3 linked regions of the Homo sapiens genome follow. The protein of the gene in region 3 purifies or fractionates together with the protein of the main gene of each other region. This does not show direct contact. Each region holds a gene or a part of one and is shown on either strand. Other genes may lie near its edges.

What was found.
Region 1: the proteins of ARHGAP19 (region 3) and TDRKH purify together in Homo sapiens (affinity purification with mass spectrometry; 2 studies listed by BioGRID and IntAct, with this or other methods). This does not show direct contact.
Region 2: the proteins of ARHGAP19 (region 3) and FHIT purify together in Homo sapiens (affinity purification with mass spectrometry; 2 studies listed by BioGRID and IntAct, with this or other methods). This does not show direct contact.

The regions. Positions count from the first base shown.
Region 1 is NC_000001.11:151,787,450-151,795,146, reverse strand, and holds the start of TDRKH (tudor and KH domain-containing protein), read left to right. Parts: upstream 1-4,646; 5' UTR 4,647-4,767; intron 4,768-7,697. UniProt on the Homo sapiens protein: Participates in the primary piRNA biogenesis pathway and is required during spermatogenesis to repress transposable elements and prevent their mobilization, which is essential for the germline integrity.
Region 2 is NC_000003.12:61,248,453-61,256,208, forward strand, and holds the start of FHIT (bis(5'-adenosyl)-triphosphatase), read right to left. Parts: upstream 3,001-7,756; 5' UTR 2,849-3,000; intron 1-2,848. UniProt on the Homo sapiens protein: Possesses dinucleoside triphosphate hydrolase activity. Cleaves P(1)-P(3)-bis(5'-adenosyl) triphosphate (Ap3A) to yield AMP and ADP. Can also hydrolyze P(1)-P(4)-bis(5'-adenosyl) tetraphosphate (Ap4A), but has extremely low activity with ATP.
Region 3 is NC_000010.11:97,289,598-97,297,124, reverse strand, and holds the start of ARHGAP19 (rho GTPase-activating protein 19), read left to right. Parts: upstream 1-4,487; 5' UTR 4,488-4,497; coding exon 4,498-4,553; intron 4,554-7,527. UniProt on the Homo sapiens protein: GTPase activator for the Rho-type GTPases by converting them to an inactive GDP-bound state.

The sequences.
Region 1 (7,697 bases), on a different chromosome or scaffold from region 3:
AGCTGGAGACCAGCCTGGGCAACATGGTGAAACCCCATCTCTGCTAAAAAGACAAAAATTAGCCGGGTGTGGTGGTGCATGTCTGTAGTCTCAGCTACTTGGGAGGCTGAGGCAGGAGGATCGCTTGAGCCCGGGAGGTGGAGGTTGCAGTGAGTAGAGATCATGCCATTGCCCCAAGCCTGGGCAACAGAGCAAGACTCTGTCTTAAAAAAGAAATAAATTCCTCTTGTGGTTTAACTATAAAGTGTAACCCCCTTTTTGGACTTCATTTCCTCTTTTTTGCCCATCCCACCTTCACTGGAGCTAGAAGAAGATGGACCCATAAAGTAGGTCTGTATTTTTATAGCAACACTGGACACATTCTTCCTTGGATTTGAACTACCATTTTACTTTTTTTAAAGTAAAAATAGCTATAGCAATCAAGGCACTCAATACCTAGGAATAATTTTAATAAGAAGTATGTAAATTCTACATAATGAAAACTAAAATTCTACTGATGGGGTACCAATGACTTGAATGTATAGGAAGATAGGAAGATTCTTATCATACATTCTCCTTTAGATAATCTAAAAATATGTGATTCCAGCCAAAATAACAGTAACAGAATAGAAGAGTAAATTATGGTTCAATATAGCCTCACAATATTATACCACACAGTAGTCAGAATGAAGGGACTAAAACTATACACAATATGGCTGAATCTCACAGAAATAATTTGAACAAAGGAAGCCAGACACAAAAGAGTACATACTCTGTGATTCTCTTTATATAAAAAGCAAGAACAGGCAAAATTAGTTTATGGTATCAGGAGTCAGAAGAGTGGTTGTCCTTGAGAAGAGCAGTGACTGAGAGGGAACACACAAGTGGCTTCTGGGGCACTAGCAATGTTCTGTTTCTTGATCTGCTGCTGGTTACACAAATGTATTCCATTTGTGAAAATTCATCAAGATATATACTTGTCATTTGTGCATTTTTCTGCATGTATATTATAAATTAATTTTTTAAATTGTGGTAAAAAAAAAAACCATAATGTATACAATTTAAAAAATTTTTAGGCCGGGCGCAGTGGCTCATGCCTGTAATCCCAGCACTTTGGGAGGCCGAGGCGGGCGGATCACCAGGTCAGGAGACCGAGACCATCCTGGCTAACACGGTGAAACCCCGTCTCTACTAAAAATACAAAAAATTAGCCAGGTGTGGTGGTGGGCACCTGTAGTCCCAGCTATTCGGGAGGCTGAGGCAGGAGAATCGCTTGAACCAGGGAGTTGGAGGTTCCAGTGAGCCGAGATCGTGCCACTGCACTCCAGCCTGGGTGACAGAGTGAGACTCCGTCTAAAAAAAAAAAAAAAAAAATTAATGATCAATGGAACAAAATGAAAAAAATCCAGAAATAGACCCAAATACATATGGCAATTTGGTATTATAAAGGTAGCATTCAAAAACAATGGAGAAAACATGGGTTATTCAATAAGAAGGATTTGAATAAAACAAAACAAAATTGGATCTCTATCTCACACCTTTACACCAAAATAAATTCCAGATGAATCAAATATTTACATATACAAAGACACTATCAAAGTACTTTTTAAAAAAACATAGGAGCTTTAAGAATAATCTTAAATAGTGGGAGACTTTACTAAAAATTATATGAAACACAGAAGTTGGCCAGGCACAGTGGCTCACGCCTGTAATACCAATACTTTGGGAGGCTAAGGCGGGTGGATCACTTGAGGCCAGGAGTTTGAGACCAGTCTGGCCAACATGGCAAAACTACTCCGAGTCTACTAAAAAATACAAAAATTACCCAGGTATGGTGGTACATGCCTGTAATCCCAACTACTCAGGAGGCTGAGGCACGAGAATCTCTTCAACCTGGGAAGCAGAGGTTACAGTGGGCCAAGATCATGCCACTGCACTCCAGCCTGGGCGACAGAATGAGACTCTGCCTCAAAAAAAGAAAGAAAGAAACCCAGAAATTATCAAAGAAAATATTGATAAATTCAATTACATAAAAATTTTTAACATTTGCAAAGAATAACCATAAACAGGCTGAGGGCAATGGCTCAGGCCTGTAATCCTAGCACTTTGGGAGGCTGAGGCAGGCTGATCACCTGAGGTCAGGAGTTGGAGACCAGCCTCAAAATATGCAATATACATAGAACAAACTTGGAAAAGGGAAAATACTTGTTATATGTATAAACAATATACATAGAACAAACTGGGAAAAGGGACATACTTTTTTTTTTTTTTTTTGGAGATGGGGTCTCGCTCTGTTGCCCAGGCTGGAGTGCAGTGGCAATCTCGGCTCACTGCAACCACCGCTTCCCCAGTTCAAGTGATTCTCCTGCCTCAGTCTCCCAAGTAGCTGGGATTACAAGCGCTTGCCACCATAACCGGCTAATTTTTGTATTTTTAATAAAGACGGGGTTTCAGCATGTTGGCCAGGCTGGTCTTGAACTCCTGACCTCAGGTGATTAGCCTGCCTCAGCCTCCCAAAGTGCTGGGATTACAGGCGTGACCCACCACACCTGGCCGGGGAAAATACTTTTAACTTATATACAAACAGCAAGTATTAAGAAATGACCCTATAACCAATAAAAATATGAACAGAATATAAAAACAGAGAATTTACAAAAAAATTGCCATTTAAATATATTAAAAGATGCTCAACTTTACTTATAAGAGCAATGAAATTTTATCTTGCAATGAGATAGCATTTACACTATCAGATTGTCAAAAATCAGGAAGTTTAACAGCACCAGTGTGCTATCAAACAGGTTCTTTTCATACATTGCTGACAGGAGACAAAATTGGTAAAATTTCCAGGGAAGGCAATTTGGTAATACTAACTAAAATCATTTTCAAAAATTGCTGGTGGGATTAAAATTATAAAAATCTTTGTGGGAGGAAGGGAATTTACAAAATTTTATCTATCCAAATGAAAAAACAATGCACACATTTCTTTAACTTGGCACTTGCATTTCTAAGTATTTATCATACACATATGCAAGAGGGAAATGAAGTATCCTTGCATATCAATCAAATGTTAAAGGACTGGTTAAATATATCTTCATATATCCCTCAGGCATACTATGAAACTATCACTATGAGGCAGATACGTATATGCTGCTACGGAAACATTTCCAGACTGTATCAAAGAAAGTTGCAAAATAGTATGTATGTTATCAACTGGGTTAAAAAAATATATGTGTGTGTATATATATATACACTTTATATATTACACATATACACACGTTAACTATAGAATATCTTGTGAAATTTTTCACAAGAAACTGGTAACCCTAGTTGCCTTGAAGGAAGGAAAATTTATTCACTATAATAACCTTGTTTCTTCTGAATTTTGTAGAATGTAAATGTATTACTTATTCAAAACGCATACACATTTTTATATTAATAGAAAGCAAAACCTGAGGCCCAAAGGCATCTGCCTAATTGACAAAAGATACAACCTTGCGTTCTTTCAGCAAATATTTATTGCTCATCACCTGCCAGGTATTGTGATGGAAGCTAGTGCGGAAGATCCCCCAATGACCAGGATCGCCCGACCCCTGTTCCCAGGGTGAGCCCCTAGCGCGGAGCGGGGACAGGGTGGACCGAGTAGGGCGCAGTGCTGGTCTCGCGAGGCTCCCTGCCCCACGGAGGCAGTAGCAGGACCCAACCGTTCCTAACCGTCCAGGGACCAGGACAGCGTCTGGAATAAAATCTTCCAAAGCAAACTTCCGCCTGCGGAGACCCGCTCCCTTCCTCGCCCCCACAGAAACGCCCCCCGCCACCACCCCCTCCCCCGGCGTAGGCCTTCACGCTGTCGCCTCGACCCGTTTCCTCGAATCCCCAGGGAAGGGTGGGCCCCTGGCGCCCCTATGGCCCGCCGCCCCCTTACCACCGCGGTCGGAGCCCGGGTCTCACTCTCCTGCCGCTGTTTCGGGCCACACCGTGTGTCCGTGCCTCCGCAAAGGAATAGAAGAGTGGGTCCTCGCTCTCTGCGGCGCACCGCTTGTCCCTTGACTTCCTGTCCATCTACAAAGCCTATTTCATGTTTTCCAGAAAGAAAACGTTTTCCGTGTCTCTTGAGTCCTCATCGCCATATGCGGGGCGGGACCGATCTATGCAAAAGATCGCAAGAGAAAACTGATGGAGCATCGCCCATCATGAGGCTGCTCTCCCGATGGTCACTGAGTTGTGTTGTGGCACTGTCTTTGTACAAAGACACCAATTTTTGCGAACGGTGCCACTCATGATTCAACGCTCTCATGCCTCGGTCCCAGCTGCTGGAGCGCAGATTTTCCTCCAAGGGTTAGAAGATAGAAAACTCCTCGGTAATTGGCCTAGAGGTGGTCTGCGAGGACGCCGGGAAGCTTGTAATTGGCTGTTTAATTCTCAGCAGGTGCGGTCTCAGTTAACAACATCTGCTTTTCCTGGATCTTATTGGCTGACAGGGTGGGCCTGCTTTGGATTCCATCCGGGTAATTGGGCAGCGGCTAGCAGCAGCCACGTCGCTCAGGGGCAGCCCGCGGAAGGATTGGTTGTGACGGGAGAAGGCGATTGGTCGGACTGCGAGCAGGGTGTTGATTGGTGCTGTCGGGCTGCGGGGGCGGGGAAGTGGCGGCTGAAGCGCCGCCGGCGGGGCTCACTGTGGTGGTGTGAGTGGGAGGCGGCGGCGCTGGTGGCTGCAGCTGGGGTGAGGCGCGAGGCGGCGCACTCGACGGCTGACTGGAGCAGCGGTAAAGGCGAGGATGGAGACCGAAGGTTTGGGGAGTGGGAAAGACAGGGTCATGGGCAGCCCTGGCCACTAGGAGACGGAAATGCGGGAGCGAGGGAAGGGAGGGGTCTGGCGTGCCCCGGGGCGAGGGAAGGATGTGGGGCGCAGCGGGGGAGTCAGAGCCCTGGGCTGTGAGACGCCGCTCGGGGGCAACTTGACCCACTGGGAACTCGTAACTGTATCTGAGGAAGATGCTCCAGTCACCCGCTTACGCCACAACGGACCCGGTGCGGGAGCGTTTGTGTTTGCCCTGAGTCAGTTCAGACTCTTCCACTGGGCCTTTTTGAGACTGAGAGCTGCCATCCGTATATCACTTTGCCTTTAACTTTCCCCAGCTTTTTCTTTAGTTATCGCTAATAGGATGGCTGTTTACAGTCGTCAGAATAATACATTGGGGTTTTTGTTTTTCCAGTATCCCTCATTCCTTAATCCAGGTATCATCGTGGGGGTTGGCTGGAGACCCCTATTTCAAAGACTGACTTTTAGACCCTTTCCTTGTTTTGAGAGAAAGGGGTTGACACTTTTTTTTTTCTCGTGAATTTAAAATAAACGTACCAAGGATGAGAACATTGAGCTGCTTCGATTCAAGCATGTCACCATGTTGTAGGTTCTTTGTAGGTTCTGGTTATTAGGAGATACTGGAATGAGTTATCTATGCTTTCATGGAGCTAACAATGTGATTTGACTTCTCATCACATCCTATTTGACTCCTGTCATTTTAAATGATAAAGTAAGCCTTAGCGATGCATATCAGATAGTTTTTGGCAATTGTTCAATACAAATGTCAGGAAATTTCAAAGTTAGCTTTCACTGAAAACCATTATCTAACCACATTCCTCACTGAACAATGATCCTCATCTTCTCTTCTTAGCTTCCCCTAGAAACTGTGGTCTTAAGTTCTAGTATTTTCCTCCTTCCCATTCAATTTTTAAGTAATAAAATCAAACACAAGCTAGCAGTCAGTACTATGCAGTTATCCCCGTTTACATTATATTATTTTCCATTTCTCTTTAAGAGAAACTTATAGCTGAAAGGATATGAAAATTGTGAACAAAACCATAGTGACAGATCAAGTAGAGTCTCATTTTTTGAGACATCAGCTGATAACTCAATTAGCACAAATTCATTTGTAATGTTTGAAGAGGAGTTAGTGAAATTTACCTTTTGCTTCAAATAGAAGTCGGCCAAAACCGCACCTATAATCTCAGCTACGCCGGACGACTGCGGGAGTTCAAGGCTGCAGTGAGCTATTATCATTCACTGCATTCCATCCTGGGTGACAGACCAAGGCTCTGTCTCTAAATAAACAACAACAAACTCTCCAATTCATCTGTTCTCCATCTCCATCATTGACACCTGGACTAGGCCCTGATTGGTCTCCTGCAGCCACGGTTGCTGCCTTCAATTCATTCTCCTCACCACGGACACAGATGTTAATCAAGAATGACAAGCATGGCATGTGTTATCAAGGGATATTGGGGATTCTGTGGAAACCCATAGCAATGTAATTCAACCCAGTGTAGGGGGTCGAGATTGAGGGGCCTTGGCTGCAGAGACCCCTCTGCACTTGATCTTGATAGTGTCAGAACTGGAAAACAAAAGTGCTGCTAGTCCTTTGGGCCTCTGTAAAGAGGTGTGATTATGACTGGCCATCAAAACAGACTTATTTCTATTGCACACTGTATTGTGTAGAAATGACTAATGAGCTGTGTGATCTTAGATCAATCCTTTTCTATCCCTTAGCCGCAGTTTCCCAAATTGCAACGTTATTAATGGAATCAAATAAGTTCTGTAGTCCCTTCTAGTTATAAAATCTTGTGATTTCTATGCCCCATAAGCATCAATTATGGCCAGTTTTTAAAAGCAGACAGCATGAAAATACAGATCCAGTTTATTCTTGTTCACAGGGCTAGATTTCAGTTTCCCAAAGCCCTTAAGACCTAAAGACTCCTGCCTGTCAAGATCTTCCTTGCCAGACAGGAAACTCCATGAAGGCAGCTGCCAAATCTATCTTGACTGTTGTGTCCCGAGGGTCAAGCACACATCAGAATTCGATATTTATTGGCTTGAATAAATGTCCATTTAGTGCAGTTCATTCATGTAGTATAGGTTTGCGGAAGAAAAGTGAGTTGTATTTTAATGAGATGATTTTCAACTATACACCATCTAAGAAATAAACCTTAAGGTTCTAGCTACTTTCAACTGTCGCATTGACCAAGAATTTATACAGTTGTCCCTCCCTTCGTTATTTGCAGGGGATTGGTTCCAGGAACCCTGCAGAACCCAAATCCATAGATGCTCATGTCCCTTGTATAAGATGCATATTATTTGTATATAACCTACACACATCTTGCCCTATACTTTTTTTTTTTAAACCCCTTGAGACAAATTCTCGCTCTGTTGCCCAGGGTGGAGTGCAGTGGTGTCATCAGTTTACTGCAGCTTCCACCTCCTGGGCTCAAGCCATCTCCCACCTCGGCCTCCTGAGTAGCTGGAACTACAGGTGTGCAACACCACGCCTAGCTAATTTTTTTTTTTTTTTTTTTTTTTTTTTTTTTGTAGAAACAGAGTCTCACTATGTTGCCCAGGCTAGTCTTGAATACTTGGTCTCAAGCAGTCCTCCTACCTTAGCCTCTCAAAGTGCTGGGATTAACAGGCATGAGCCACTGTGCCCAGCCTGTTTTGGTGTTTATGTTTCCTAGACTATGAATATTTCCAAGTAGAAATTCTTCTTCCTCCTTCTGTCCCCAACGTGCTCAGCACACAAGAAAGAGCTAGCACTATTTAACCAAGATGCATTAATAATGGAAACAAGCTTTGCACTTTAGTGGTCATATAAGAAAATACCTAAGCCAGGCGCAGTGGCTCACGCCTGTAATCCCAGCACTTTGGGAGGCCGAGGTGGGCGGATCATGAG
Region 2 (7,756 bases), on a different chromosome or scaffold from region 3:
TATCTGTGAATACATAATTGAAAGGGCCAATATGTCTTCCAAAATGAAAGTCACAACTTGATAGATTTCTGAGAGTTCATATTAGAGGGTCAGATTTTAACATGTGAATGCAAACATAGTGTCAGAATTTGTTCTCAAGTGTCTGAAAGAACAAAAGAGAAAAGAGTAATGGGAGCCAAAACCAGACTAACTTCCAAAATAGAAACAGAGCATGTTGAAGTTGCATAAACACACAAATAAAGATGGGGACACAAAAACATTTCCTAAAGCATTCTATCAAAGGCTGCAGGAAAAAGGCCAAGACAAGGATACCAAATAGAAAAGCATAAGCCTAAAAAGGTTATCCACACTACTGTGAGGACTCCAGAAACCTGCCTTCTTGCAGAAACGGGATACTTTTGACATGAGGGCATGAGATGAAGATTGCAGACTACTTCGTAACACACTCTCCTCATTTATAAAATAAGAGTTAGATTAGATTATTTATAAGGTCCTTCCAGTCTGAATGCATTAAGTCCTTATCATCTATGTGGTCCTTGCACCTTAAGAGAGATGACCATATAAAGAAGCTCAAAAAACATTTGTTGAATTCATGAAGTATTACAACCTTACCAATAATAAATAAGATAATTTATAACAATTGGTCCTGGTCTGTGGCCTTGAAAGAGCAAATTAGAGGAGAAACCATTATCTAAAGAGCTACACATCTGGTGTTCCTGCTAGCTGACTGCTGGTGGAATGAAAATAACCCTGGACTTGAAAATAAGATGCTTGGTTCTAGTCTAATCTCTGACACAAACCAACTGTGTGACCTTGGGCAAACTGCTTTACCACCTGGGCCAGTTTCCTAATCTCTAAAATAAAGGTATTCTAAAACTATATACATATATATATGGAATCTTTATTATAGGCCAAGAAGTGTTCCAAGATCTTTGCATTAGAATTAAATGATCTCAAAGGTTTTTGCAGCTCAAATGTTTAGTATCTAAGTACAGAGGCAGCATGGTATAATTAAAAGATTCCAAATTCTGTAGCCAGAAAGGTTGGACTCCTCCTCAGCTCTGTAAGGTAAGGTCTTTCTCTAAGCAGAGACTGTTAAGCAGAAGGGCTTACAGTCTCAGTCCTTTTATTCACCAGTGTTTTAACTTGAACAAGTTACTTAACTTTCCTAGCCTTAGTTTTCTAATCTGTAAAGTTGATATAAAAATGGTTCTCACTCTCATATAGCTTTTAAGAGGATTAAATTATAACACATATATTTTATTGAATATATATTATATTGCTAGCTGTGTAATCATGGGCTATCTTCTCAAGTTTTTTCTCATATACAAATGGGAAATGTAGTATTAAAAAGAGATCATGTGAACAGGTTCTAAATGGTCAAGTGTTAGTGGTTTTGGAAGCATGTACGTTAATACTTGGAACACCGTATACAACAATCCCATATCTAACACTTAGAACAGCATATGCAATCAATAACAACACACACACACACACACACACACACACACACACACACACACACACACACACACACAAACCCTAGACTTCTTTCTTTACTAAATATTTCTAGTCCAGGTTGCAGCAGGTGGACACAGGCCGGCAGCCATGAACGCAGGTCCACATGGGAGTTGTAGTTCCGAGTCAAGCGGCTGCTCTACAGAACGGCTAGAAGCGAGACTTCGTCTCCCAGGAGACATCTCGCCGTGCAAAATGGCACGCCACGAGGTGGAGTACCTGCCCGACGAGAAACAAGAGGCGGGACTGCAACTCCCAGAAGCCTCCGCGGCCAAGGCCTCAGGCCGCAGGCTGAAGCCAAGGAGGGAGAGTTCAGGTAGATCCGGCTTAACATCAGGTGCGAGTAGGGACCACCCTTGGTAGTCTGGGCCCGGCCCAGGTCAGAACCTTACTAAAACAACCACTGTGAGTATTTTCTATTGGTCCCAGCACATTTCTGAGAGACCAGAATAATAATAGCAGTAAATCTGCAAGTGGTAAACTTTCACAAGCATAACCTCAATTTAGATTTCGGCTTCAGGCAACATCCTTTGGCCACTTGACCTGGGAGCATTGAGCTCCTTGTTTCCCAGATAAGCGCTGTGAGTGGCTGTTCCAAGGTAACACAGCGAGGGCAGAATGTGAGCCTACAGAGAAATCTGCAGATGCATCTCAAGTTCCACTAACCTGCCTCCTTACCCCCCACCACCACCAACTTGGATATACCTTTAAAATTCCCCCCTTTGACGCTAAAAATAAAAACAACAACCATAAAATAAGTGTAAGAAAGTCCGACCAAGTACCGATGAGTTCTCCCACAACAATAAATTCGATGCCTCTTTGCCTGTTTTTGAAGTAGTAATGTAAAATTATCTCCCAAAATGCTGCCTTCTCTATACTCCGGTTTGCTCCTGTCCTGGGCACGTGTTCAGCAACCCCTTAGGGGAATCCAGAGCTGCGTGTTTAACACAGACCTGTTGGGACGGATTTTCGCTACTTGTCTATGAAACTGACGAACCATCCCAAAACGGCGGGTGCCGACTACACCCCCAGAGCCAAGAGCTGTGGCGTCCCCGGACCCGCTGGCGTGGCCCCGTGCCTCAGTTTCCCCAATGTATAAACACGGTGGAGGAGGAACGGGTTAGGGCTAGGGTCGGTGCTTGGGAATTGGGGGGCCCGAGTCCCCACCCTGAGACCCTCGTGGGGCGGAAGAGTACTCGGGACAGAAGCCCACCGCCCCGTGAGCGGCGCCGGCCCCACTGGGCTCCGGGGTGATGACCTGACGCGCGTGGAAACCCAGACCCGCGCCCCAGAAACAGTATTCCACTTGGGCTTGCCTCCCCGCCCCTACCTTCCAGGATGTTGACAGCTGGGAATGAAAGGCAGAGGGAGGGAGCGCGGGGCCGGAGCGCCGCCTGGGAGTGTGCCCACTGGGTGGCCGCCTGAGGGACCCGGGAACAGAGGGCAAAAAGTCCTGTGACCGGACAGAGCAGAGCGGGGACTGCAATTCCCAGAAGACCCCACGGTAGGGGCGGGACCCAAGATGGCCGCTTGTCTGGGGACAGGAGCGGAGGCCAATACGCGCAGAGCATGCGCCTACGCCGGGCCAATTGAAAGCCATAGTGACAGTAACCCTGATTCAGGGGCGGGAAACACTGACCACAGAAGACAAGTTGAGGTGAGAATCCCCTTACAAGGGGGTTTGGGGCATAAATCGCACAATCTTTGGCTTTTTCTAACTAGAAAAAGAAACATGATTCTTTTCACGTGTAACGAAAGGCTGTACCGCACTTTTGCTTTTTTCTTTCCTCCCAAAACGCGTTTAACTATCCCTTCACGACTTCCCACTGGCTGGATTTCTTTTCGTTTCATTTCCCCACTCTGGATCTTTCTGGATTCCTTAAGCCTTCTTTTCTTTATGTGTCTCTCAGAAACACAGACTTGCAGTCCCTGGCTTGATCCATCAAATAATGTGGTCATTTACGACTACGCTCAGCCCTCCCTGGCATCCTAACAAAATTGCACCACATGCGCCCCTTCTCTTTTCCTTTCTGTCTTTTCTGTGCTGTTTTTCTCCTTAGCATTTGTCGTTACGAAGCATTGTATAAAATTTACGTATTTATCTTTTTTACCATCTTACTTTCTCACTAGAATGCAAGATCCCTGCAGATGTGGATTTTTGTTTTGGTCACTGTAGTCTTTCTAGCACCTAGAAAAGTGCCCAGCACATAGTAAATACACCGTATTTTCAATAATTGAACGAAATCTAGAGTGACCTTTCTCCCCTAGTCTCCCTTTCTCTGGTGCAGATCAACCCGTTTCTGACCACCATGGTTCCTTGTGCTTGTTCCCCTGTTTAATCCAAAATCATTATTGATGTATTCTGTGCCAAATGCCATGTGGGTGCTGGAGAAATCATTGATTCAGACCCAATTCCTAACCTCAAAATGCTCTGTCTAGTGACGTATGAAAAGTAAAATTAATTTTACAATAAATGCAATTACAAATTGCAGAACACCTACGTAATTTTCACAAGGTCATGCAGCTCCTAAGCAAGGACTAGATTCCTGGCTGCAGACTCTTGCCATTACATCGGGAAAAACAAAGAGCAGTTTTCTCTCAGACAAACACTAAGATAGGTCCCCATTTTCCTTAGCACCATTTCCTTTCTCTGTCTCTCACTTTTTTATTTGGCCTGATTCATTACATGCAGGCAATTACATCAAGTCTTAGATCTCTCATTATTTCTAATATTTGAATCCCATGGAGAGTAGCAAGGTGTCCTACAAAGTGTCCTGGTGTGAAAATCTGATGTCCTTGGAAGCTTGACTCTCAGAGAATGTCACATTGGATTATAGTTCATCACACAGACACCATGGCCACATAAAATATTATCAAATTGTGAATAACAAAGTGAAATTGAAAAAAAAAATATAGTTAAAACAGCAGGAATGTGAGCAATATATGTACAGACTGATTTTGTGCATAGAGATTAAAACACCTGTTCAGGCTTCCTAGCCTAATCTTCTGTCAATTTGGGGTCATTTCCTGTAATACAATTCTTTGTTGCTTTTATGAGCACAGACTTAGCTCAGCAGTCCCAGCTATTCTCAAGCTGATCGACATGAGAGATTTCAACACATGTGTCAGCAGCCAGACTAAACGTGGAAGAAAATCAGAAGCATTTGAAACTGTAAAGCTCAATAACTTTCCTCCTCCTGAGAAAGCATCAGCCTATAATCATTACATCTTCTACTTAGCAGTCAAAAGGCAAATGTCATGAACATACTCAGGGTCTAAACAGTGGTGTCTAATGATTATTGCACTGTTGTCAGATAGCCTAATATGAGCACATAGGTATTACTTCAGCTGTGGATAATGCTGACTGCTGGGCTCAAGGTCACCCACGACCTTGAGCAACAGATACATTCACAAAGAGCATGAAGACATAGAACTTGCATTGGATTCAGGACCTTCAAGTGCCAAGACAATCAGTGGGAGGTTACTGTCTGATCTGCAACTTGACTGAATTAATAACCACCTTAGTATGGGTTCTCCCAGAAGCAGATCTGGAGACAGGTATTCAAGAGCAAGTATTTTATTTAGGAGGTTATCGCAGGAAACACCAGTAAGAGACTAAGAAAGTGAAATAGGGAAGAGAAGACCAAAAAGATGCCTTATCTAGCACATTACCGCTAGAGGCACCCAGAACTTAATCCTCCTAGAAATCTCTGGGAAACAATATGGAACATGTACCTTAGACTGAGTGATTCCACCAAGAGGACAAGATAACTGGGTTGTTTAAACACCAACTACCGTCAGTCAATGATTGGGGGCAGCTTTCAGGGATTATTAAGACCCTGGCTTGTCTGCAATGCTCCAAGAGTAGACAGAGTTGCCTCAGTGGCCACAGAAAGCCAGAGATAGAAGAATTAAGAGTCACATTGGTATACGCTGAAATAGTAAGGGAATATAGCATACTGGCGGGGCACCAATAATATCTGCTACAGGTGGCTTTGGTTTACCACAAGCTCATGTCACTGAAACTAACAGAATAAGAATAAGTCAGAAACTAAGTAGATAAATACAAAAAGCCCAAGCAGCCTACCACCTTCTATCACTCATCAACAATTAAGATAGATTGTACTTTCTAAATCCTCACTAAGACATACAAACCAAACAATAGCAGAAGCCTCATTTACACTGGGGAATAGGAACTCTTTGGGCATTTAAGGAGGGTGCTTTGGGAGCTTTGGGGCATGGTAGTGCAAGGAGAAAGAAGATTAAGAAAAGGGGAAAAGGACATTTAAAGAAACGTGTTAAAAACATTGTGTTTTTCATTTTATGGTCTTGAAACATGAGTAAAGGGTGTGGATATTTTAAGAAGGTAGCATCAAGATCTGGGTGACTTTTAGACCCAGAAGACAATTTTGTGAAAGACTTCTGTGGATTGTGCCATTATAGTACTTCTTCATAGCAAATATCTTTACTTGAAATTATACCCACATTTATTTGTCCTTTTGTTTATCATCTGTCTCCTTCAAACAAAAGGTAAACTCCATGAAGGTAAGAACTTTGTTTTCAGGCCAGGCACGGTGGCTCATGCCTGTAATCCCAGCACTTTGGGAGGCCGAGGTGGGCAGATCACGAGGTCAGGAGTTTGAAACCAGCCTGGCCAACATGGTGAAAACCCATCTCTACCAAAAATACAAAAATTAGCCAGGCATGGTGGCTCACACCTGTAGTCCCAGCTACTTGGGAGGCTGAGGCAAGGAATCACTTGAGCCTGGGAGGCAGAGGCTGCAGTGAGCCAAGATTGTGCCACTGCACTCCAGCCCAAGTGACAGAGCGAGACTCCATCTCAAAAAAAAAAAAAAAACAAACTTTATTTTTGTGTTATTCATTAGTCAGCACTCAATAAATATGTGGTTAACAAATGACTATATTATGGCTACAAAAAGTAAACAGGGTAAGTACTAGAAGAGCCTGACATTTGTACCATTTGTATCATTCAACTAAATCATAAAGGTAAGAGGCACTGGTAACTACACCATAACCCCCCATTATCACGAAGCTTGGGGCCATCCTTGTGTGTAGAAAAACTGGAGGTCACATAATGTTCTCTGGCTTTAGTCAAACACTTCCAACAGCATCCTCTTCAAGCACACATGGCCTACAAGGAAATCTTTACCATGGAAACAGAATTTCAAAACTAAAAAGTCCGTAGAGGTCAAAGAGTTCAACCCTCTGCATAATTCATCTTAGCCATATGTTACAGGTCATAATTCAGACCTTCAGACAAGAATCTTTATTTATTTGTAATTTATTACAAATTTATTTGAAAAAATAATATCTAATACAAAAATATTATATTAGAAAAAAGGAGAAACAATGCATTATTTTTGTAATACAAAGTATAGAAAGTTTGGGAAACTCAGTCGTACCCAAATGCTCTAGTCTGCTTCACACATTTCTTAACCTGTGATCATTAAGCTTTTTGGCTACCATTGGAGAATTCTGGTTGCCAGTAAGAGCCATCTTATGATGTGCTGAAAATTTTCTAAATTTTTCACCTATGTTTTTTTTTTCTGTCATCTTATTTCTCCCTTTGTTGTTCTGTGTTAAATGTATTCCTTGGGTAGATTTGTTCATCAGATATTTAGAGATCTGTCTATTCCCTATAGCTTGTGAACATATGCATGCTGTCTGCTTTTAACTGTGCCTCATAAATAATCACACTTAATCCTTCTTAGTGCCATCTTTTGCAATCATCTTCCAGTTACCTAGAACATAAGGTGCATAAAACTAAGCTCAGTGTCCAAGCTGTGATCTCAGTAGGGTGGCTCAGAATTAAGCGATGATTTTTCATCACTCTCTTTCAAGAAATTATGGCTCTAAACTTATTGCCCTGGTTTCACTGCAGCTTTAAAGACATTTCATCATTCTAGAAGATAAGACCCATTAAAAGCATTTTCTAAAAACTAAAAAATATAGTAGAGGAGAGTGCAGTTTCAATTCAGTTCCGTGTTTTATATATTGAGGGTTACTCTGCGAGCCATTGTGTTAGAGGCTGTAATTCACAAGTGAATAAGACACAGTCTCTGGAGTGGTACGGTAGTGAATACTGTAAGCATGTAAACAGATGAGCAAATCAATGTGATTCCCCATATGAGCCAATGCCAATGCCAGAATGAGTGGATTCTGCCACCTATAGTGAAGGAGAGACAGGGGTTCTGGGCAGAGGCAACAGTACATGGCA
Region 3 (7,527 bases):
GCGCGTGACACCATGCTAATTTTTTTGTATCTTTAGTAGAGACAGGGATTTCACCATGTTGGCCAGGCTGGTCTTGAACTCCTGACCTTATGATCCACCTGCCTCAGCCTCCCAAAGTGCTGAGATTACCAGCGTGTGCCACTGCGCCTGGCCGAGTTTAGCATTCTTAATATTCATCATGTCGTCTCCAACATTGATCTAATCTTAGTATGTTCTAGACACTGTGCTACTAAGCAGCTTTTCAGAAATTATCTTTTTTTTTTTTTTTTTTTTTGGGACGGAGTTTCGCTCTTGTTGCCCAGGCTGGAGTGCAATGGCGCGATCTCGGCTCACCACAACCTCTGCCTTACGGGTTCAAGCGATTCTCCTGCCTCCGCCTCCCAAGTAGCTGGGATTACAGGCATGTGCCACCATACCTGGCTAATTTTGTATTTTTAGTAGAGACGGGGTTTCTCCATGTTAATCAGGCTGGTCTCTAACTCCCGACCTCAGGTGATCCGCCCGCCTCGGCCTCCCAAAGTGCTGGGATTACAGGCATGAGCCACTGCGCCCAGTCTCAGAAATTATCTTATTTTACTCTTCACCATACCCTTGTGAGACTTATTATCCTCATTTTACAGAAGAGGAAATGGAATCAGAAAGCTAAGTAACTTATCCAGGGTCACATAGCTAGGAGCTCTGGAGCCAGGATTTGAACTTGGGTTTATTAACTCCAGAGCCCATGTAACTACTGTGCTGTATTTTCCCAAACATTATATAAACATGTGATTTGGCCAGGTGTGGTGGCTCATGCCTGTAATCCCAGCACTTTGGGAGGCCGAGGTGGGTGGATCACCTGAGGTCAGGAGTTCGAGAGCAGACTGGCCAATATGGCAAAACCCTGTCTCTACTATAAATACAAAAACTAGCCGGGTGTGGTGGTGGGTGCTTGTAGTCCCAGCTACTCGGGAGGCTGAGGCAGGAGAATTGCTTGAACCTGGGAGGCGGAGGTTGCAGTGATCCGAGATCATGCCACTGCACTCTTGCCTGGGTGACAGAGTGAGACTCTGTCTCAAAAAAAAAAAAAAGGTGCGATTCTTCATTAAAAAAAATGAACCAGAAATATAGTTTTGTGGCGTTCCTCCTAGTTGCAGTGGTAATACTTTAAAGTTTTGAACAGTTTTTCTTTTGTGAAAGCATCAATTTCATTCAATCCATCAGTCCATGTGCTGGGTGTCATGGGGCTAGAAACAAAACTAGTTCTTATTTTGAGGGAAGGGCAGAATTTGAGCCTTGGGTTCCTTGCTTTGTATATATAGCAATTAACACAACCTGGATTTTCTTTTCTTTCTTTCTTTTTTTTTTTTTTTGAGACATAGCCTCAACCTATTGCCCAGGCTGGAGTGTAGTTGCACGATCTCGGCTCGCTGCAACCTCCATCTCCTGGGTTCAAGTGATTCTCCTCCATCAGCCTCCCGAGTAGCTGGGATTATAGGTGTGTGGCAACACGCCCGGCTAATTTTTGTATTTTTAGTAGAGACAGGGTTTCACCATGTTGCCAGGCTAGTCTGGAACTCCTGACCTCGGGTGATCCACCCGCCTCAGCCTCCCAAAGTGCTGAGATTACAGGTGCGAGCCACCTCGCCTGGCCTTTTTTTCTCTTTTCTTTTCTTTTTGAGACAGTCTCACTCTGTTGCCGAGGCTGGAGTGCAGTGGCACATGATCTTGGCTCACTGTAACCTCCACTTCCTGGTTTCAAGCGATTCTCCTGCCTCAGCCTCCTGAGTAGCTGGGATTACAGGTGTGTGCCACCATGCCCGGCTATTTTTTTGTATTTTTAGTAGAGATGGGATTTCACCATTTTGGTCAGGCTGGTCTTGAACTCCTGACCTCAAGTGATCTACCTGCCTCGACCTCCCAAAGTGCTGGGATTACAGGCGTGAGCCATCACACTTGGCTTCTTTTTCTTTTTTTGTTTTTTGTTTTTTGTTTTTTTGAGACAGGGTCTTGCTCTGTCAGGGTGGAGTGCAGTGGCATGAACATGGCTTGCTGTAGTCTCAATCTCCTGGGCTCAAGTGATCCCAGCCTGGATTTTCTAAGGCTGTCTGAGGTTCAATGAAAAATTTCACTGATACGTTTGCTAAATTTTATGTTTCTTTCCATGTATTTGCTCAATAAACATGATTTGTTAAACATCAAACTAAATAAGACTGGGCATGGTGGCTCACACCTGTAGTCCCAGCACTTTGGGAAGCCTAGGTGGGTAGATCACTTGAGTTCAGGAGTTCGAGACCAGTCTGGCCAACGTGGCAAAACCCATCTCTACTCAAATACAAAAATTAGCCAGATGTGGTGGCACACACCTGTAATCCCAGCTACTTGAGTGTCTGAGGCTGGAGAATTGCTTGAACTCGGGAGGCAGAGGTTGCAGTGAGTGGAGACCATGCCACTACACTCCATCCTAGGCAACAGAGTGAGACTCTGTTTCAAACAAAAAACATAAAAAACATCAAACTAAATGCAATTTTATTTGGACACATTTATCAAACTTTTATTTTCTTTTTTAGAGAAAGGGTCTCATTCTGTCGCACAGCCTGGAGTTCAGTGGCACAATCATAGCTCACTTTAACCTTGAACTCCTGGGCCCAGGTGATCCTCCTGCCTCAGCCTCCAAAAGTGATGGGATTATGGGTGTAGGCCACTGTGCCTAGCCCTTATCAAACTTTTAGTATTAATTCATCAATTGAAAAAAATCTATTAGAGTATATGATTTGATTTTTTATTTGGATATAATAGTTTGAGGACTTGCTTATATTTTTCAAAAATATTTATTGGACAGCCATTATGTGCCAGAAACTGTGGGGAGCAAAATAAATATAGTCTCTGCCCACTTGTGGCAGGAAGCCTAGCTGGGAACCCTCACATGAAATAAATAGTCACACAAATGACTATGTAATTGTGAGTTGTGATATGAACTGTGAAAGAATAGTACAGAGTTCTTTGTGAAAGTTTACTGAGGGAATTGATTTATACAATGGGGGTCATGGAAGATCTTTGAGCCAGTGACATTTAAGCTTCGACCTGAAAGCCAAAAAAGTGGAAAAATGGACGAGCCAGAAAAAGCAACATGTGCAAAAGCCCTAAGACAGTTCAGAAAGTGAAGCATGTGCAGTACAGTTTAGTAAAAAGGAGGCAGAGTGCAGGGAGAGCCCCAGGTGGCAGGATATCAGAAGGATCAATACAGAAATTCCCGAGAAAAGTCCAGCATAGGAAAACAATATGGAAAAACAAAAAACAACAATGCTCAAAATTTACAATGTTCTCACATATGTTGCCTCAGTTAATCCCTAGGAGAAGTGTGTGCCGCAGGGAGGACAAGGATAATTATGGTTATTCCTACCATTGAGGATTAAAGTTTAGTTTGGGACAAAGTCATGCAGCTTTTGGTTCCATGGTTCATATCACAAGGCAAACTCTGTGGGTTCTCTGGGAAGTTGGAAGGGAGTGAATGTATTGAAGCAGAAATGACCGACTCCAGCCTGGCCAACAGGGTGAAACCCCATCTCTACAAAAAGTACAAAAATTTGCCCTGTGTGTTGGTATGCTGCAATATTGTACTGTGCTCCAGCATGGGAGACAGAGGGAGACCTTATCTCAAAAAAAAAAAAAAAAGAAAGAAATAAAGGAAGAAAGAAATGACCTATGGCTAGGGCTATGCTGAGTATCTGAAGAAAGAAGGCTTTGAACTATACGTTTAAAAGCAAGTACTTCTAGGTTGCCACTCCCTGCCTGCACTTGAGGGATTTATCTCTGGGTCAAGACAGAGAACGAGTCTTGCATTAAATTACATTAAATTAAATGAATTAATTTATGGCTGGGTGCAGTGCCTCATGCCTGTAATCCCAGCACTTTGGGAGGCTGACATAGGAGGATTGCTTGAGCTCAGGGGTTCGAGACCAGCCTGGGCAACATGGTGAAACCCTGTCTCAACAGAAAAAAAAAATTAAAAAAATTGTAAAAAAAAATTATTTATTTTCAACTTTTATTTTAAATTTAGGGGGTACATGAGTTGGTTTGTTATCTGGGTATATTGTGTGATGCTGAGATATAGGGTACGGAGTCTTGCATTTTAGAAAGTGATGAGTCACTTTCAAAGTTGACAGTTCTATAATTCCCTGATTTACATATCAGGACAAAATTTGAGCATAGGCTGGTGATTTCTGACTTGAACCTAAAGGTCTGTGGAATCGGAAGGGTTCATCAAAATGAGAAACTACAACTCCCGGCAGGCCTCGGGGCTGGGTCTTCTTCCCCGCCCCTCCCTCTTTTTCCGCCAGGGCTGGGAACGACCAATGACGGTTAGTCATTTGAATAGACCAATAATATATTAAACGGTTCAGGTTGAGGAGGGGCGGTCGAGTCATCCAATCGCACGGAAGAGGTGAAAACATATTAGCCAATCCAAATATGTGGGGGCGGGACGTAAGGTGGGGCGGTGAAAGAAGTTTGCTGACGAAGATGGCGACTGAGGCACAGAGTGAAGGGGAGGTGCCAGCCCGCGAATCCGGCCGGAGGTGAGCTGAGTTTGGTCCAGTTTCCTGGGAAACGCGGCCTTGGGCTGGTAGTCCTGCCGCCTTTGCCTTGGGTCACGGAGGCGCACGGTTCGGGCTTTGTTTCTTTCTCCCACGGCGTTTCTCATCGTCGCGCCTGCGGGGGCTGAGGCGCGGGGGTCGGGCCTGGGCGCTGGACTCCAGCCAAACCCCCCGCTCGGTCCTGCCGGTGCCCGAGGGGGCTCCTCCCGCTGCGCTGGCTGCAGACGTCCAGCTGGGGGTGGCAGCGCTGATCGCTTTGGCGCCGAGACACCTCTTGATGGCGAGGAAACGGAAGTCCAGGGCTGGTTAGCGAATTCCTCACTGTTGCACACAGCGCTTCACATCTTCTCCGAGGCACTTTGTGCGTTCAGGTCCGAGCAAGGATTTGAGTGTCAATTAGAAACAGTGTTGAGTCCTTGGGCCAGTTTTTAAACCTCTCTCGACTTCAGTTTCTTCATCTGCAAAGGGACGTGAGGATGCCTATTTCCAAGTGTCAAGATTGAATAAGACAATCCATTTAAAGCTAGCACTGAGTTTAGCCGATAATGACAACTCTACGCAATAGATTTTCTTCTTCCTAGTAGAACAGCTAAGGAGCAGATGGGAGAGGGATCTGTAGTCCAGGACATCATGACTTTATTTCCACAGGATGTTCTTTCCTAAACAGCCACACCGAGATTTAGCGTTTTCAGGAGAGAATTTCGAGGTGGTGTTGCCTTAGCCTTGAGACCTAAGTTGTCTTAATTGATTACAATTTTGTTTTTGGTGTAATTCAATAGATTGAGTTTATTTACGTTGCCTCAGTGTAACTCAGTAAAATACTTCGGTTTGGCGTCTTTTGGTTCCATTTGTACCGAATAAGAGATTCCAAGAATCTTGGGAAACTAATAACTTTGTGACTCGGCTTCTTCCTGAGCCCAGATGAGCGTGGTTGAGTGTGTTATTTAAAATATCATACGGGGCCGGGCATGGTGGCTTACGCCTGTAATCCCAGCACTTTGGGAAGCCGAGGGGAGCGGATCACCTGAGATCAGGAGTTCGAGACCAGCCTGGCGAACATGATGAAAGCCCGTCTCTACTAAAAATACAATAATTAGCCGGGTGTGGTGGCGGGCGCCTGTAGTCCCAGCTACTCAGGAGGTTGAGGCGGAGGTTGCAGTGAGCCCAGATGCGCCATTGCATTCCACCCTGGGTGACAGAGCAAGACTATGTCTCAAATAAATAAATAAAATAAAATATGATATGGAAGAGTTTTCCACTCTTTTTTGTTTTGTTTTGTTTTTGTTTTGCAGTTGCAAGATTTCATAGAGTGAAATAGAGTGAAAACACAGCTCCCACACAAAGGGAGGGGACCCAAAGTGGGTGGCCGTTGCTGGCTCTAATGCCTGGGTTTATATCCTGATCCTTGTCCCTCCCGCTGTGCTCTCAGGCAAGAGATGATTGGCTATTTCTTTACCTCCTGTTTTTGCCTAATTAGCATTTTAGTGAGCTCTCTGATTGGTTGGGTGTGAGCTAAGTTGCAAGCCCCGTGTTTAAAGGTGGATGCGGTCACATTCCCAGCTAGGCTCAGGGATTCTTAGTTGGCCTAGGAAATCCAGCTAGTCCTGTCTCTCAGTCCCCCTTCTCAACAGGAAAACCCAAGTGCTGTTGGGGAGATTGGCCGATGACCGCCCTAACTGCTTCCTGCTGAATTGGGGCGTAGTAGGGGTTGTGCAGTTGAGATTTCCTCGGGAGGGTTGCCTTCGATGTCATTAACATCGGAGCATGGGCTAGCAGGCTGTTCCAGGGGTCCGCGGTGGATCTTAGTCATAGACTGCATCTGGGGCTCCATTTGAAGAATGATTTGTAGTTTTACAGTTTCAATTCTGGAAGAGACAAACGCTTTGGATGCCCCTTCGTGGTCACCAAAATGTTACCGGGGGTCCTTGCTCACAGAGCTCCCAAGATGGTGGCCAGCCGCTTCTAAGATGATGGCGGGCCGCTTCCAGGATGGTGGCAAGCCTAGTGTTCTCTGACCTGGGGTTCTCAGCCTCACCGATTCCAAGGAATGGAATCTTGGGCCATGGGGTGAGTGTTACAGCTCTATTAGAAGCTGTGGGTCACGGAAGAGAACCGTGGAACCCAGTGACTGGTGTTCAACTTGATTAGGACGAACCCAGGCACTTAGCCATGCAGGAACAATGGCAAGCCTTTAGCACGATCGGGAGTGGCAATGGGAGTCTCACTGGATCAGGAGCACAGCAGACACCCTGCCAGATCCGGAGGGATGGGAGTCAGCAGCGGGATGGGAGTCAGCGGCGGGTCTGCGACAGCGGCAAACAGCAGTGGTAGAGGGCGAGCAAAAGCTCAGCTCCAGCCATAACAAACATAGACCAGAAGAGTGCAGTTGCAAGATTTAATAGAGTGAAATAGAGTGAAAACAGAGTTCCCATACAAAGGGAGGGGACCCAAAGGGGGTTGCCCGAGTTTTCCACTCTTGAAGCTGCCTATAAATGGTTGATCATTTTTTTTTTTTGCCCGGGAACTGTAGAGGTGATTGATACATTTGATTAGATCATCCTTCATCCAGTTCTTTAAAAATTTCTAAATTTTGGTGAAAATCTGAGGACAAATAAAATACTATTCCATAGCAAGAGTAGTTTGAATTTATTTTCTTTTCTTTTCTTTTTCTTTTCTTTCTTTCTTTCTTTTTTTTTTTTTTAACACAGGGCTCCTTCTGTTGCCCAGGCTGGAGTGCAGTGATACGATCACAGGTCCCTGCAGCCTCAACCTCCTGGGCTCAACTGGTCCTCCCTCCTCAGCCTCCTGAGTAGTTGGGACTACAGGCACGTGCCACTATGCCCAGCTAGTGTTTTTGTTGTTGTTGTTGTTTTGTTTTTTTGTAGAAACCGGGGTCTTGCCATGTTGCCCAGGGTGGTCTTGAGTTCCTGGCATAAGTGATCCTCCTGCCTTGGGC